2 linked regions of the Homo sapiens genome follow. The protein of the gene in region 1 interacts with the protein of each later gene in a biochemical or structural test. Each region holds a gene or a part of one and is shown in the gene's direction. Other genes may lie near its edges.

What was found. Proteins that work in one complex are often made in the same cells at the same time.
Region 2: the proteins of ATP5PO (region 1) and ERCC6 form a complex in vitro, tested with the Homo sapiens proteins (one large-scale study listed by BioGRID).

What each region holds. Positions count from the first base shown.
Region 1 is NC_000021.9:33,902,909-33,905,914, reverse strand, and holds the end of ATP5PO (ATP synthase peripheral stalk subunit OSCP, mitochondrial precursor), read left to right. Parts: intron 1-1,893; coding exon 1,894-1,980; intron 1,981-2,275; coding exon 2,276-2,389; 3' UTR 2,390-2,462; downstream 2,463-3,006. UniProt on the Homo sapiens protein: Subunit OSCP, of the mitochondrial membrane ATP synthase complex (F(1)F(0) ATP synthase or Complex V) that produces ATP from ADP in the presence of a proton gradient across the membrane which is generated by electron transport complexes of the respiratory chain.
Region 2 is NC_000010.11:49,532,491-49,536,144, reverse strand, and holds part of ERCC6 (DNA excision repair protein ERCC-6), read left to right. Parts: intron 1-3,166; 5' UTR 3,167-3,180; coding exon 3,181-3,602; intron 3,603-3,654. UniProt on the Homo sapiens protein: Involved in repair of DNA damage following UV irradiation, acting either in the absence of ERCC6 or synergistically with ERCC6. Involved in the regulation of gene expression.

The sequences.
Region 1 (3,006 bases):
TTTGAGACTGAGTCTCACTCTGTCACCCAGGCTGGAGTGCAGTGGCACGATCTTAGCTCACTGCAACTTCCGCCTCCCAGGTTCAAGCAATTCTCCTGCCTCAGCCTCCCAAGTAGCTGGACTACAGCACCTGCCACCACACCCGGCTAATTTAGTGTATTTTTAGTAGAGATGGAGTTTCACCATGTTGGCCAGGCTGGTCTCGAACTCCTGACTTCAGCCAATCCACCCACCTTGGCCTCCCAATGTGCTGGGACCACAGGTGTGAGCCACCGTGCACAGCCACAAGGCCATGATTTTCTTTTAAAGGATGCTTGTTTTTGCAAAAGATTTTAGAACCAACTGTTACTAATGCTTTTGATGTTGATACTGTTGGGTGCGTGAGTCTGTACTGTTTGAAAAACGTTATGTCTTGATGAGTGACTAAGAGCACAGGCTTTAGAAATACACAGACTGGTTTCAAATATTGGGGCTGGTCCTCACCTGCTGATGTGGCCTTAGGTGAGTTTCTTACCCACCCTGAGCCTCCGTTCCCTCATATGTAAAATGGGCATAATGACCGGTGGCCTTTCAGGGTTGCCCACATGAAGGGAGATAGTAGGCATGAAATGTGCCTGGCATAGACAGGTACCTGGCAGTTGGTACATGTCTCAGTGGAGGGTATGTATATTTCAGAATTCTGTAACCTTTTAGTCTCAGTAAATCATGTTTTGAACACGAATAGATTCTGGCCACCACCAGCACCCCCCACCCCCAAAAAAAGGATATTGTTATATCTTTACAAAGACATAAATTTTTCTGCCAAATTTTTTTAGGCTCTTAGAGGAGGGGCCAGGGAGGTAGGATTTATGACAAGTTAAAAAAAGGCCTTTTTAGCAGGGTGTGGTGGCTCACACTTGTAACCCCAGCATTTTGGGAGACTGCAGCGGGTGGATCACTCAAGGCCAGGAGTTCGAGACCAGTCTGACCAGCATGGTGAAACCCCGTCTCTACTAAAAATACAAAAATTAGCCGGGTGTGATGGCATGCGCCTGTAATTCCAGCTACTTGGGAAGCTGAGGCAGGAGAATCACTTGAACCTGGGAGGCGGAGGCTACAGTAAGCCGAGATCTCGCCACTCTACTCCAGCCTGGGTGACAGAGCGAGACTCGGTCTCAAAAAAAAGGCCTTTGGTTTAACAGCCTTCTTCATTTTCACCATTAGAACACTTAACACTATAACATAACTAACCAGGAGTAAGAGTTGGGGCCGAGAGGAGAGTGCAGTCTGGACATTTGAGGTGCTTGCTCTAAAGTAGGTTATGGAGCTGAGCTGACTTCAGGAAAAGCCAACTGCTCCAGGTTCTCTCACTGGGGTTCAGAGAGTGGAGTGGCCTGCCAGAGCTCCAGGTAGCTGTGGATGCGGGGAGATGAACAGCCAGCAGAGCTAGGCAAACATGAAGATGTAAAACCAGGTTAAAATGGCAACTTTTCAGCCAAGGACATGATAGATGCATGTCGTGTCCCCAGGGCTGCACCCAGGAGAGGCCTGTGTCCTCCTGCATTGATGGGGCTGCATCTTCAGGCATTAGAAACTTGAAGGCCTTTCCTTGTTAGTTCCAAGTTGTACTGCTAGCACACAGAGCAGAGGCAGGGAGGGAGTGGCATTTACAGGCCGTCCTTGAACGGCTGAGTGGGAGCTGCCCGGGTGATGCTGTGAGGCAGGGCCTTCCTGTGCTCCCTGAACCTCCAGCGTGAACAAGGAGTGAATGCTGCAGAGCAGCTCCATGATGGGCCCAGGTAGCAAAGGGAGGAGCTCACAAGGCCTGTCTTGGTGATGTGGGCCTGGGGTATTTTAACTCTGGAAGTTTCTGTTTTGCTTTATCTAAATTGAAAGGATGGTTTTGCCTTTCAGCCTTTAGAAGAAGCCACACTCTCTGAATTAAAAACTGTCCTCAAGAGCTTCCTAAGTCAAGGCCAAGTATTGAAATTGGAGGCTAAGGTAGGTTTTAAATTATTTATGGTACGTTTTCTCGGGTTATTTTAAGCTTAAAATGGCTACAGAAAGTACTAGTGAAATATTAGATCTAACTCTATACTAATTTTTCTGTAGTTAAAATTTTGTATTTATTTTAAATTTAAATGATTATCTGACTGTGCAGTTTTACTTTTGCCTTTTTCTAGGTGTAATTATAACCTCTTACATTTGTGCAACACATTTAGCCTTTCAAAACACTTTTTTGTGTGTCCCATTTGATTAGCGCGTTTTCACATTTCCAGTCTTACTTCTTTTGTAGACTGATCCGTCAATCTTGGGTGGAATGATTGTGCGCATTGGCGAGAAATATGTTGACATGTCTGTCAAGACCAAGATTCAGAAGCTGGGCAGGGCTATGCGGGAGATTGTCTAAAAGTGTTGGTTTTCTGCCATCAGTGAAAATTCTTAAACTTGGAGCAACAATAAAAAGCTTCCAGAACAGATCATATTATGTTCACTGTCTTTTAAACTGGAATGTAGAAGGCTTTATTTTTATGTCCTTTTTTGGTATCCCCTGAGTATAAAGGCCAAAAAGCCCTTTTGGCCTAGAGAATTTGGTTTGAGTAGATTATGTTTAGGAATTAATTGGTTAGACACAGCACCTAACACATGGTCACTCAGCAAAGTCTATCTGGTCCTGCCTGCCAAAATCCCGTGTCTTTAAGGGTTTGTTCAGAGTTCCTGGTCCCTACTAGATCATCGGATCTGTGTTTGATCCATAGCCCTCCAGGGAGGCCTCTTGCCCTTGATCCTAACATGAACACACCTAGTTGTAGGCTGCTCTGTAGCTTTCAAGGCCATTTCATGTACATCTGAAGCTGCATGACAGCCTTGTCACACGGGTGGGAGAGACATCACCCCACTTTACAAATGAGGAAAGAGATTGAGGGGCCCTAGAGATGTGCTCAGAGTCACCTGTCTGGACAGCTGGTGTCAGGCCCTACAGCCCATGTTTTTACCACTGTATAACTAACACCATGCGCCGACACG
Region 2 (3,654 bases), on another chromosome or scaffold:
CGCTCCACTGAAACTTTTTTATTTTTTCGAGACAGAGTTTCACTCTTGTTGCCCAGGCTGGAGTTCTGCGGTGTGATCTCAGCTCACTGCAACCTCTGCCTCCTGGGTTCAAGCGATTCTCGTGCCTCAGCCTCCCGAGTAGCTGGGATTACAGGCATGCACCACCACGCCTGGCTAATTTTTGTATTTTAGTAGAGATGGGGTTTCACCATGTTGGGTCAGGCTGGTCACGAACTCAGGTGATCCACCCGCCTTGGCCTCCCAAAGTGCTGGGATTACAGGTGTGAGCCACCAAGCCTGGCCTGAAACTTCTTTTACCAAGGTAAATGGTGACCCATTGGTATCCAAATTCACTCAGCCTTTTCTCATTCACTGGACGCTCTTCCTCCTTTTTTATTATTAGAAGTTTTCCCCAAACTTCTTTATTTTTAACCTTGTCTTTACACTACAATACTATTGCTTTTTGATATTATTTTACAGAAATAGAAAAATGGTTACTTAATATTTTTGGTTGAATTGGCATCCTTTTTTCTTAAAAAGAAATCCTCATGTGTGTACAAATAAGAAAAATGAAAACAGAATTGTTAACTGCCAGCTAGTACAGACACTCTGAGCTGGAATCCTGCTCTCTCTGTTGGAAAGTGAGGTGAGCTGAGCCTTCCTCTTGAAAATAATCAGCAGGCCCCAAAAGAAGGAACTTTCTCACTGTGTTGTTCACTTTTTAACCTTTCCAATGTTAGCCTCCTCGTACCCTCCAAAATGACCTTAGGTACCTGTCAGAGCCTTGGGAACCCTGGAACTGCTCACTCTGCTGATGTGTCCACATGTCACCCAGACTTTCCCTTGAGCTCAGATTTGCATTTCTGACTGCATGCTGCAAATGGTACTGATTACATGTAAGCTGCTTGCCAGTCCTGCTTCCTATCTGCTTCCTTTTTGAGAGTCTCATTTTTGTGACTGAATTCACTGGTGACTCATTTGTCCAGACCAAACTTTTTATTATTTTAGACTTAGCTCTGAACCTCACTTCCTTTCAGCAGATATTGAGCACCTCCTATATATCAGACCATGCATGGCCCATGTGTTCAAATCTCAGTTCCTCCGTGATATTTCTTGGGCCCCAGACACCATATATAGTTCGCTCGATGCTCGTGTGACCTCTTGTCCGTGTCCCGGGCTAGCTGACCTGCCCTGCTCTGTTGTTAACTGACATGCTGCTGCTCCAGTGGATAGCCACTCGGGTGTAGATGATGCTGAATTCTTTGTATCCCGGTGCTTTATTGCTGGGCTTATTTTACTTAATAAGGGATGAGTGGGGCCCACTGGGGGAACTTGTCATTTAACAGAAAAGTTACAGTGCTCAAAGAAATCTTATTCACAGTTAAACAAAAAGCAAGACTGATTTTTGGTTATCGTTTTGCTTTTTAATATATTTATTAGATGTGATAGTTGTATAGGTAATATAGTGAATATATTCTCCTTAAAGCAGCAGGTCCTGAGTATGTGGAGTACAATGTGAACATTCCCCCTTATTTTTCCCTGTGCTTTCTCTTCCCCATCCTGATTTGCAGGCTTAGTTTGTATCCTGCCAGATCATTCTGTGTGCAGGATAGATACTTTTTTCAGCATAAGTGTGTTCATACCATGAATTTTTTCACTTAACATGGCTTTTATATCAGTATACAGAATATACTTAGTAGTTACATTAAACTATTAAAAATGTGCTGCACTAAACATTCTTGCACCTGTGTGTGACTAGTTCTCTGGAATAAATACCTAGAATTGCTTGACAAAGGTCATGTGCCTTTAATTTAATAGATATTGCTAAGTTGTCCCTACAAGGGGCTTTACTAATTTATATTCTCAGCAGCACTATGTGAGGGGGGATCCTTCTCCTTGTCTGTATTGGATTTATCTATCAGGCTTTGAATTCTTGCTAACCTGATGGGTGAGAAATTATACTGTGTATTAAAATGGAGTTTTTTTTTTGTTTTTTTTTTTTTTTTTTTTTGAGATTGAGTCTCACTCTGTTGCCTATGCTGGAATGCAGTGGTGAGATCTCATCTCACTGCAACCTCCGCCTCCTGGGTTCAAGTGATTCTCCTGCTTCAGCCTCCCGAGTGGCTGGGATTACAGGTGCTCACCATCATACCCAGCCAATTATTGTATTTTTAGTAGAGATCGGGTTTCACCATGTTTGCCAGGCTGGTCTCAAACACCTGACCTTAAGTAATCTGCCCGCTTCAGCCTCCCAAAGTGTTGGGATTACAGATGTGAGCCATCGTGCCCAGCCTATTTTTGAGAATATTTTAATTAATCTTTTAAAAAAACTTTAAATTTATTTTACAAGGTCTTGCTCTTTTGCCCAGGCTAGAGTGCAGTTGTGCAATCATGGCTCACTGCAGCCTCCATCTCCCAGGCTCAAGTGATCCTCCTGCCTCAGCCCCTTGAGTAACTGGGACTATAGGTGCACATCACCAGGCCTGGCTAAGGTTTTAAATTTTTAGTAGAGACAAGGTCTCATTATCTTTCCCAGGCTGGTCTCGAAGTCCTGAGCTCGCTGTGTTTCCCTGGCTGGTCTCTATCCTCCCGCTTTGGCCTCCCAAAGTGCTGGGATTACAGGACTGAGCCACGTGCCTGGCCTAATTAATCTTCTGAGCTTCTGATTTGTTCAAAGCTCCTATTTACTGGATAGGTATTCAGCCTAGGAGTTTCTAGTCTCAGATTCACACAGAAGCTCTTTCCTAACATCGCTGTTCCTATGCATTACAGTTGATCTTGCCACTATATTATAAATCATTTGTGTCATAATGAAATGAAGATGCTAACTTGGAAAACAGCAGCCAAATGACTTCAGCTGTTTTGAAGAATATTCCATGGCCATCACCCCAGGATTTTGGTGGCTGGCTTTCTTAGCTGGCTGCCTAAATGTCCTTTGTTGATGATACTGCATTTCTTTTTCTGGTTAATTTTTCTTATTTATTATCAGAACTCAAGAAGATACGTTGTCCCTTTTTAGTAAATTAATACTTGGAAACTTGAATTTATGTAGTTGGAAGATTATTACTTGATCTTTTGAGAAATCAGTCTGCTCTAATTATAAAATATTTAAGAACTACAATGAATCCTATATAACGAAAAGGCTTATAAATTTTTTTCCTTTTAGGTAGTCTGTAGAGAATGCCAAATGAGGGAATCCCCCACTCAAGTCAAACTCAGGAGCAAGACTGTTTACAGAGTCAACCTGTCAGTAATAATGAAGAAATGGCAATCAAGCAAGAAAGTGGTGGTGATGGGGAGGTGGAGGAGTACCTCTCCTTTCGTTCTGTGGGTGACGGGCTGTCCACCTCTGCTGTGGGGTGCGCATCAGCAGCTCCGAGGAGAGGGCCAGCCCTGCTGCACATCGACCGACATCAGATCCAGGCAGTAGAGCCTAGCGCCCAGGCCCTTGAGCTGCAGGGTTTGGGTGTGGACGTCTATGACCAGGACGTGCTGGAACAGGGAGTGCTTCAGCAGGTGGACAATGCCATCCATGAGGCCAGCCGTGCCTCCCAGCTCGTTGACGTGGAGAAGGAGTATCGGTCGGTCCTGGATGACCTCACGTGAGTGCAGCCCATCTTCTTCCTTTCAAAGTGGTGGTAAAACATGACAGGG